Regions from separate parts of the Homo sapiens genome. Here region 2 is linked to region 1. Evidence: fine-mapped expression QTL. A gene starts in region 1. The other region holds a variant in brackets. All regions are shown on one strand. Distances are between the middles of the regions.

Evidence for each region.
Region 2: its variant is fine-mapped to the expression of SMURF1 in whole blood (TOPMed, PIP above 0.99).

Annotation. Positions count from the first base shown.
Region 1 is chr7:99,142,050-99,147,420 of GRCh38, reverse strand. SMURF1 (SMAD specific E3 ubiquitin protein ligase 1) reads left to right here and starts at 3,313. Exons shown (of 18, transcript NM_181349.3): 1 at 3,313-3,695. The coding sequence starts at 3,641. It also overlaps a transcript of KPNA7 not described here. RefSeq lists silencers at 3,052-3,551, 3,692-4,021, 4,082-4,131.
Region 2 is chr7:99,168,519-99,173,889 of GRCh38, reverse strand. KPNA7 (karyopherin subunit alpha 7) reads left to right here. Exons shown (of 11, transcript NM_001145715.3): 11 at 96-318. The coding sequence ends at 182. Among named protein-coding and RNA genes, the nearest start is that of SMURF1, 27 kb to the right of the region's middle. The variant C/A (reference allele first, on the strand shown) is at 2,488.

The DNA of each region.
Region 1 (5,371 bases):
ATGCCATTCACGTTCATGCCTTTGTGCAGCTGTTCCTTCTATCTATAATGCCCTTCCTCACCACTTTGCCCAGCAAACTTGAACGTTGGCTTTAAGCTCTAGATTAAGATCATCTGTGACTCGAGATGTCTCCATTTCTCTTCTTATGTAGAATTGTTCTGTCATCTATGTTCTAGCCTGCTATACACATCCCCATCACTGTATCATTGTCAGTTGCTCATGTCTGTTTCATCCAGTTAACTGACCCTCTGGAATGCTGAAGCTGTAATAGATTTATTTTGTATTCCTTGTTCCTAGCCACATAGCAGGTGGCCAATGTTTGCCGAATGAGTAAAACATGAGCTTCCAGGTAGGAAGGTCCCCTTTGTGCAGCTGTGGTGAAAGATACTATTGGGTATATCTAGCAATTTCAAATGGTCCCAGTTTATGACGGTTTGACTTACGATTTTTTGATGTTATGGTAGGAAAGCGACACACATTCAGTAGAAACCACACTTCAAATTTCGAATTTTGATTCAAAATTCTTTATAATAACTTTATCGTAAAATAGGCTTTGTGTTAGATGATTTTGCCCCACCGTATGGTAATGAAAGTGTTCTGTGCACATTTAAGGTAGGCTGGGCTAAGCTATAATGGCTGGTAGCTTAGGTGTAGTAAATGCATTTTCCGTTGTTTTTTTTTTTTTTTTTTTTTTTTTTTTTTTTTTTTTAAGACACAGTCTCGCTCTATTGCCCAGGCTGAAGTGCAGTGGCACAATCTCGCCTCACTGCAACCTCTGCCTCCCGAGTTTAAGTGATTTTTGTGCCTCAGCCTCCCGAGTAGCTGGGACTACAGGTGCACACCACCACACCCAGTTAACTTTTGTATTTTTAGTTGACAGGGTTTCACCATGTTAGCCAGGCTGGTCTCGAACTCCTGCTCGCAGGTAATCCCCCCACCTCAGCCTCCTAAAGTGCTGGGATTACAGGCATGAACCACCATGCCCGGCCTCCGCAAATGCATTTTTGACATATTTTCAACATATTATGGGTTTATCAGAATGTAACCCCATTGTACATCAAGGAGCATCTGTACTTGTTAATGAATGAACAAAATGCCTTTCAGAAACCTCCAGAAGCAACCTCCTGACTCAAAGATTAAGGAAACAGTCAAGCCAACGAAGAACCAGCCGTCGGGGCGGGGAGAAAAACAACAAAATTAAGCAATGAAAGGTTTCCAGGTCAGGAACACCTGGGGATAAGAACAGGAGCCTGCACCCAGGTAAGCAGAGAGTGATGTCTGGTTTTGTTTAGAGAGGAGACTCTTTGAATAGGGGGGAAATACTAACGGGATTGGCAGAAGAATGGGGATTACTTGGGAGCATTAGAGACTGGATGGATTAATTCAGACCCAGGCATTCACTCTCTGTGACAATCATCTACAAATGGAAACAGCTGGATTGTGGCTCTACTGCTATTGCTTAAACATTGCTTATATTCTTGGGTCTTTCTTGAGGATAACTGAAAGAGCCGCAAGGTGCCATAGAAATGACCTAGGACCATCCTTTTATTTGACAGATGTGATGCCTTGAATCCTGCCCAGGAGAGACTCTGCTTTCACTAGGGTCATCCGAGGCAGGCAGGCAGGCAGGCAGGCGGGCAGGCAGGCAGGTATGTCTAGGCGCTCTAGGTAGAAGGCTCTGTTCCGAAGACTGTGACCTTAGGACAGGCACAAGGCTGCAGGGGATGGTAGCAATGGCCCAGAGCCTACTTTCCTTGGGACACACACACACACACACACACACACAGTATTAAAAGAATTTGTTCAAGTTGATTGATGAAGAATCAAATAAAAATAAAAAAGAACTTGTACATGAAAATGGGTAGTGGGGTCTGGGAGCGGTGGCTTAGGCCTGAAATCCCAGCACTTTGGGAGGCTGAAGCGGGCAGATCACCTGAGCTCAGAAGTTTGAGACCAGCCTGGCCAAAACAGCGAAACCCCATCTCTACCAAAAATACAAAAATTAGCTGGGTGTGGTGGCTAACGCCTGTAATCCCAGCTATACAGGAGGCTGAGACACGAGAATCACTTGAACCTGGGAGGTGGAGGTTGCAGTGAGCCAAGACCGTGCCACTGCACTCCAGCCTGGGTGACAGAGTGAGACCCTGTCTCAAAAAACAACAACAACAACAACAAGGTAGTGGGTAAAAAACAAGTTTGATAAACCTAGTTTTCCCTCTTTCTAATAATACCAGTTTATTTCTATAACATGCTAACAGAGAGGAGTTTGTTTGCTGGAGAAAGCGCATAATGAGCTTTTTCTGTGTGTGTGTGTGTGTGTGTGTGTGTGTGTTTTGAGACAGTGTCTAGCTCTGTCACCCAGGCTGTAGTGCAGTGGCCTGATCATAGCTCACTGCAGCCATGAACTCTGGGGCTCAAGTGATCCTCCCACCTCAGCCTCCCAGTACCTGGGACTACAGGCGCGCACCACCATGCCCAGCTAATTTTTGTATTTTTTGTAGAGATGGAGTCTCCCTATGTTGCCCAGGCTGGCCTCAAAGTCCTGGGCTCAAGTGATCCGCCCGCCTCGGCCTCCCAAAGTGCTGGGATTACAGGCTACAGCCACCGTACCCAGCCATGAGCTTTTGGTTCTAACCTGCAACCCCGGGAGAAGGGGAAATTTAGCAGAAGACATGGGAACACAAACCACAATGCCACTTTCTTGTTTGGTAAAATTGTATGCAGAATGGATAATAACAAACATCCGCCTCTCAACTTTATCCCTCCCTCTCATCTCGTTTTCCTTGTCCGTATATGGCACTTCTGCGATTCTGGCAACTTTGTTATGGGTCAGTGGAGCACACCCGTTGCACAGAACACACCTAAGGGCTTTGTCTCTTTGAGAAGTCCCTCCCTTGAACTTGCACGATCGAAAGCTCTTAACTGAAAAAAACTGGTATTGCACGCCTGTGTGCAAGGAGCTTGGTGTGGACACAGCCCACGGTTTCATGCAAACCACTCTTCAGTCACTCAGGAGCCCAGAGCCTCGCAGAGACAGGGGTCAAGACAGAGGGCGACCGCGCGCTGGGTCCCGGGGCCAGCTCTGCTCTCCCTTCCCGGGCTCGGGGCCAGACCCTCCCACCCACCGACCACAGGAAGGGTGAAGACCCCAACCCGCGGGATCCGGGCCCCGCGCGCCCGAGGCAGGCGTGCGGGCGACGTAGCAGCGCACCCCGCCCCGCCCCAGCGTACGTGGCGGGGGCGCGCACGCACGCAGGCGCGGGGGCGCGCAGGGCCGGGCCGGCACGGCGGCGGGCGCGCGCGCGGCTCGGAGAGGCGGCGGCAGCGGCGGAAGCGGCGAGGGCGGCGGGCGTCCGGCTCTGAGGTGGTGGAGGCGGCGGAGGCGGCGGCGGAGGCGGCGGCGGCTCGGGACTGGGCTCGGCTGGAAGCAGCGAGGGTCAGAGCGCCGCAGCAAGCGCCGATCTCCCGGCTCGACCATCCGCCTGCCGCCCGGACGCCTGGGCCGCGGAGTTTGTGTCCCGGCTCGGACCCCGGCGCCCAGCCCGGAGCCGTAACCTTGAGGCGGCGGCGGCGGGGCCGGGCCGGGCCGGGCTGGGGGGCGGTGGCGCTGGATCCGCGGCTGCCCGATCGTTGGCGGGAGATGTCGAACCCCGGGACACGCAGGAACGGCTCCAGCATCAAGATCCGTCTGACAGGTACGGCCGGCGGGAGGCCCACCCGCGCCCCGGCGCCCCCTCGCCCGCCCCGGAATTCCCCGCAGGGCGCCCTTGGAAGCGGCCCTCCCCCACGCCGGCCGTTGTCCCAGGACCTCGTCACCCCCTTCGGCGTGCGCCCCTCGCTTCTCCCTCCTGGCCCCGCCCCCTCGCCGTTGCCCGGCCCCGCCCCCTGGCCGCTCGCGCCCCCTCGGTCTCGCGTTCCCTCCCGTTCCCCCGCACCTGCCCCCTCGCATCTCCGTCCTGGCCCCGCCCCTCTCATTTCCATTCATGGCCACGCCCCTTGCATCTCCTTCCCTGGCCCCGCCCCTCGCTTCTCTTTTCCTGGCCCCGCCCCTTGCATCTCCTTCCAGGCCCTTTCCCCTCACCTCTCCCCGGCTCGGCCCCTTGCCTCTCGCTTCCCTTCCTCTCCCTAGCACCTGACCCCTCGCTTCTCCCCCCAGGCCCCGCCCCCTTGCCTTTCACCTCCATCCCTGTGGTCCTTTCTCTTCCCCACCTTTCCTCCCCAAACCTGACCCCGCCCATCTCTCTGGCCCCACCCCCTCGCTCCTCTCTGCTCCCGCCTCCTAACTTTCTGTCCCCGCCCCCTCGCTTCTCCCTGCGTCCAGCTCCCTCGCTTCTCTCTGGTCCCGCCTCCTCACTTCTTTCCTAGCCTGGGCCCTCACTTCTTCCTGGTCCCGCCTCCTCACTTCTTTCCTAGCATCGGCCCTCACTTCTTCCTGGTCCCGCCCCCTTGCTTCTCTCCTTTTTTTCTCCTCCGCCGTTTTTACCCCCTCCCTCCTTCTCCTCGCTTCCCATCCTCTCCGCCCACCTGCCCCCTCGCTTTTCCCTCCTGGCCTTGCCTCTGTTCCCCTGGTCCCATCCCTCACTTCTCACCACTTTCCCATCATCTCTCTTGCTTTCCTGTTTTCCCTCCCACCTGCTCCCTCCCCTCATCCTCCTGGTCTTTCCCACCACTTCCAAGCTATTTTGCTACCTCCCCTTCCACTTGCCCCCTTGCTTCTCCCCTCCTGCCCCCACCCACCCTCTTCTCACTCCCCCATCCTCTTTCGTTTCTCCCTCACCCCCCCACACCGTCCTCCTCCCTTCTTCCCCTAGCCCCGCCCCTCACTTTCAAGCCCCGCCCTCATTCCTGCCTAGCCCCGCCCCCTCGCTGCTGTCTGGCGAGGCCTCCACCCTTTCTTTCCTTCAGCCTGAAATTCCTCAATCCTATCTTGTAGCTGCTCCCAGTCCTGCTCTCTTCACTTCCCCCTGGTCCAGCCCTCTTCAGTCTCAGTCTGGGCCACTTCCTGTCTCTTAGGCCAGACCGCTAGCTACTTTTAACTCTGCTTCTTCAATTTTTACCTTTTCTGCATTTTGTTTCACCATCACCCCCACACTCAGCAACCCAGAGCGCCGTGAGGCTCTGATCCCTACTCCCACACTCACTGGAGGCTTTGGAAGCTGCCCACACGCAGGCTCCTTGATTCATTTTGTCTTCAATGAAAAGTCCGTGTTTCCTGGGTGGCTCTGTAGTGCCACCTTCAAGGGTGAGCGCAACGCTCTGCCGCGGGCCTGCGACTTGGTGGCGCGGATGTGATGCCAACCTGTTTCCCCCCGGGCTCCAGAGGTTCTGGACCAGGCTGCATCCTCGTCTTCCCTTTCTCACTCTCATTGGT
Region 2 (5,371 bases), 26 kb before region 1:
AGGGTCAATTTTGTTACAAGGTGCATCTTGCCAAATGTGCAGTGATAATGTGCTGAGAATCCTGGAGGTATAACAGTGTCTATTCTCTCCTGAAGGAAGAAGATGAGAGCCAAACTTTACTGAGCCAAGTCATAGACCAAGATTATGAATTTATAGATTATGAATGCTTAGCAAAAAAATAGCCAAGCTCCCTACCTCCTAAACCAACAACCCAGTGCTAAAGGATAACTTCTTTAAGAAGCAGCAGTCCTCTATCTTAGTGTAACCCAAATGTGAAGCTTTTAAAACTTGACATTAATAAAATGTTCAACACTTTCACGTTTCTCTATCTGAACTTCAGATAAACGACTTGCATCTTAAAACCATGTGGAATTCATCTCCTAAGAACATTTGTTTAGGCTGGGTGTGGTGGCTCACACCTGTAATCCCAGCACTTTGGGAGGCCAAGGTGGGTGGATCACCTGAGGTCAGGAGTTTGAGACCAGCCTGGCCAACACAGTGAAACTCCGTCTCTATTAAAAATACAAAAAATTAGCCAGGCATGGTGACGCATGCCTGTAATTCCAGCTATTTGGGAGGCTGAGGCAGGAAAATTGCTTGAACCCAGGAGGGCGGAGGTTGCAGTGAACTGAGATGGAGCCATTGTACTCCAGCCTGGGCAACAAGAGTGAAACTCCTTCTCAAAAAAAATAATAAAAAATAAAGAACATTTGTTTAGTAATTGCCTTTTAAAAGGTCTTAAAGCAAAACCTTCAAGACAGAGTAGAATGGTCTTATAGTTATCCGGACAGACTTTTTCTTTTTCTTTTTTTTTTTTTTTTTTTTTTGAGATGGAGTTTCGGTCTTGTCACCCAGGCTGGAGTGCAGTGATGTGATCTAGGCTCACTGCAACCTCCGTCTCCCAGGTTCCAGTGATTTTCCTGCCTCTCCTGCCAAATAGCTGGGACTATAGGTGCCTGCCACCATGCTGGGCTAATTTCTGTATTTTTGGTAGAGACAGGGTTTCACCATGTTGACCAGGCTGGTCTCAAACTCATGACCTCAGGTGATCCACATGTCTCAGCCTCCTAAAGTGCTGGGATTACAGGCGTGAGCCAACATGCCTGGTCTCTACACAGACTTCGACTTGCAGATACAATATCATTGGTTCTTAGTGCTGCAGGGACAGTGTTACTGGCCTTCTTTCCTCTGGCAATTAATATCCTGACACTGACAAGATCTAAGATAATTTTCTCTAGAAACTCAATCTCTCTTATTCTTCCTAGAAAGAAAGAGAGTGCGTGTGTGTTTCTATATTTCAAGGCAGCACCACCACATGCAGCTAACCTTTTAAAGAATTCTGTAGAGATGGGGTCTTACTATGGTCAGGTTAGTCTTGAACTCCTGGCCTCAAATGGTCCTCCCACTTCAGCCTCCCAAAGTGCTGGGATTACAGACATAAGCAACCGCACCTGGCCTACATATTATTTTTGAACCATGACTTTCTTGTATACTTAATTTTTATAACTTAAATGAACTTTGATACAATGTACATATTTTACAGAGCTATAGATATTTAAAGCAAAGGAGGACCCATGCCTCTTCCACCCCATCCCCAGAGGCCAGAACTTTCTACTCTTTGGTCTGTTTATTCTAGTCTATGCTTTTGTAATTCTAAACATTATGCTCATGCTACATCTAAAGACGATGTTCGAATTTACAGAAGAGATAGCCATTTTTTTATACCTCCCTTTCTTCGCATCGTAGATATCTAATTTTTGTTAGCTTGATGTCCAGATTTTATCATAATGATGTAAATTATATTCAGAAGTGTGTTTTCCTTAGTATTAATCCACATCTTCACTCATATGCTTTGTTTTCCTTGGGTTTACCTCATATCAAATTCTTACAGCCTGTGTAAACCTCCTGCTGAATGTAATACGTCAGTAATCTACCAACATGCTTGTCATCCACACCCACTGGAGAGCTCTGTCATGCTCCAGCCTGGAATAGTTGTCCTCATCCTCTGGTACACGTCTATTGTCCTGGGATCGGCTTTTACCATCATTGTGGGGGCTCCACTCACTTTTCCTGGGTCAGTGTCCCTGTTTGCAGGATCTCACACCTGCCTGTGCTTGTTTTCCCCTTTATTTTAGGGACAAGGTCTTACTCTGTCGCCCAGGCTGGAGTGCAGTGGAACCATCACAGCTCAGCTCAGGGCAGCCTTGCTAAAGCAATCCTCCCGCCTCAGCCTCTTGAGTAGCTGGGTCTACAGATGTGTGCCACTATGCCCAGCTAATTGTTTAATTAATTTGGCTTTTAAAATTTTAATTAATTTGGCTTTGGGAAGCCAAGGCGAGAGGATTGCTTGAGCCAGGGAGTTGGAGGCTGCAGTGAGCTATGATGGTGCCACTGCACTCCAGCCTGGGCTATGAAGTGAGACCCCATCTCCAAAACAAACGATCGCATGAGGAGGTAGGCATGGGATCCAGGAAACAGGGAAGCTGA[C/A]CTTGAATTCCTGGGATCAAGCGATCCTGCTGCCTTGGCTTCTCAAAGTGTTGGGATTACAGGCGTGAGCCACTGAGACCCACTGGCTTTTAATATGTATCTTCTGAGAGAAGGTGCATGGGAGGTTAAATTTCAGACACTGCTCATCCAAAAACATGTACTTTATTTTTTATTTTTATTTTTGAGACAGAGTCTTGCTCTGTTACCCAGACTGGAGTGCAGTGGCACGATCTTGGCTCACTGCAACCTCCACCTCCCGGGTTCAAGCGATTCTCCTGCCTCAGCCTCCCGAGTAGCTGGGATCACGGGCGCCCGCGAACACGCCCAGCTAATTTTTGTATTTTTTTTATTAGTAGAGACGGGGTTTCACCATGTTGAACAGGCTAGTCTTGAACTCCTGACCTCAGTGGGATTGCAGGTGTGAGCCACCGCACCTGGCCTTTGAAAACATGGACTTTGTTTTGACTCCTGGTTGACAATCCAGCTGCAGACAAGTGTTCTAGACTGGAAACTATGACCTTCAGAATGTTGCAAGCATCGATCATTATCTTCTAGTTTTCAGTGTTGGGTTCAAAGTCTTCTACTCTGATTGCCAATTATTTTGTGCATGACTCTCTTCCCCTGTCTCAACTCTACTGACTGAAATTTGTAGGTTGTGTCTCCAGTATTCTTAAATGTGCTGTCCTGAATAGAAACCTATTTTCTGTACATCCAAGTATCAGCCTTGCAGTCTAGAATTGTCCTTTTAATTTTTAAAAAACAGCTTGGAACAGTGGCTCACGCCTATAATTCCAGCACTTTGGGAGGCTGAGGTGGGAGGACCCCTTGAGTCCAGGAGTTTGAGACCAGCCTGGGCAACATAGCAAGACCCCATCTCTAAAAAGAAAAAGAAAAAAATAGAATTATCTCCCCTGCCACCACCATTTTTTTTTCCCACTGAAACGGATCCTCTCATTTTCTTGTCCCATTCTCTATTTTCCATCTTTATTTTTTACTTTCTGGGGTATTCTACTTTATCTCTTCTTCCAGGCTTTTCATTTCTGCAGTCACTTAATTCGAGACACTTTGTTTTCACAGGCTTCCCTTTTCAAGCCTCCTTCTTCATTAGCGCAAGATCCTATCTGTGCTATCGACCTAGCTTTGTTTATGCATTGATTCTTGGGGGGGTGTTTGTTGTTAGTTTGGTGTGCCTATGGCAAAGGCTTCCATCAGATGTCTGATGTCCTTGGATCTCTGCTTGTAATAGAAAGGTCCTCAGGCTGTGAGCGGGGCCTGTCATTGGTGGATATCTGCTGGGTGACCCCACAGAAACCTGGCCATTCCAACAAGTGATCCCAACGATCAGAGCTGCAGATTTTTTTTTGAGACAGTCTTGTTCTGTCACCCAGGCTGGAGTACAGTGGCACAATCTCTGCTCACTGCAACCTCCGCCTCCTGGGTTCAAGTGACTTCTCCTGCCTCAGCCTCCCAAGTAGCTGGGATTACAGGTACAAGCCACCATGCCCGGCTAATTTTTGTATTTTTAGTAGAGACAGGGTTTCACCATGTTGACCAGGATGGTCTTGAATCCCTGACCTGAAGTGATCCGCCCACCTCGGCCTCCCAAAGTGCTGGGATTACAGGCGTGAGCCACTGCGCCTGGCCCAGAGCTGCAGATCTTTTTTCATGGGCTGGTTAGTTTTCCTAAAGAGGAGTCCTTCAACCATTCATTTGTGAGACTTATGCTTCCCTCCTTCCATTCTCTGGGCAGGGCACAGGAACAAGGTCAGGTTATTTATCTATTTTTGAGATGGAATCATGCTCTGTCGCCCAGGCTGGAGTGCAGTGGTGCAATCTCAGCTCACTGCAACCTCCATTCCCAGGTTCAAGCGATTCTCCTGTCGGCCTCCTGAGTGGCTGAGATTACAGGCGTGCCCCACCATGCCTGGCTAATTTTTGTATTTTTAGTACAGATAGGGTTTCACCATGTTGGCCAGGCTGGTCTTGAACTCCTGACCTCAAGTGATCTGCCCACCTCGGCCTCCCAAAGTGTTGGGATTACAGGCGTGAGCCACTGTACCCAGCCAAGGTCAGGTTGTTCAGTAAGCAAAATACTCATTTTTCTCAGTTTTGCTCCCTCAGATGCTGTCCTCCCCAAGTCCAGAGTCCTTACACCTACCTTCTCAGGGACCTGCCAAGCTTTCAGCCTGGGGGCTAAAATTCCAATAAAATTGTTTCAGTTTACATTATTTTAAAAAATTATTTATTTGAGACAGGGAGTCTCTCTGTCGCCAGGCTGGAGTGAAGTGGCGCGATCTCAGCTCACTGCAACCGCCGCCTCCCGGGTAGCTAGGATTACAGGCGTGTGCCACCACGGCCAGGTAATTTTTGTATTTTTGGTAGAGATGGGGTTTCACCATGTTGGCCAGGATGGTCTCAATCTCTTGACCTTGTGATCCACCCACCTTGGCTTGGCCTCCAAAGTGCTGGGATTACAGGTGTGAGCCACCGTGGTTACATTAATGGAGAGTTCAGGATTGGAAGGAAACTAATGTCAAGGGCTAGATGTACTTTAAAGTTCTTTGAAGTGGGTGGCGGTGCCTCCATGTCAAAGGTAAGGAAACACAGCCGGGTGTAGTGGTGTGCACCTGTGGTCCCAGCTACTCAGGAGACCGAGGTGGAAGAATCGTTTGAGGCCAGGAGTTTGAGACCAGCCTAGGCATCATAGCAAGATCCCATCTCTACAAATTTAAAAAAATTAGCTGGATGGGGCAGTCCCTAGCTGCTTGGGAGCCTGAGGTGGGAGGATCACTTGAGCCCAGGAGGTTGAGGCAGCTGTGAGCCATGATCCTGCCACCACACCCCAGCCTGGGGGACAGAGCCAGACCCTATCTCTTAAAAAAGA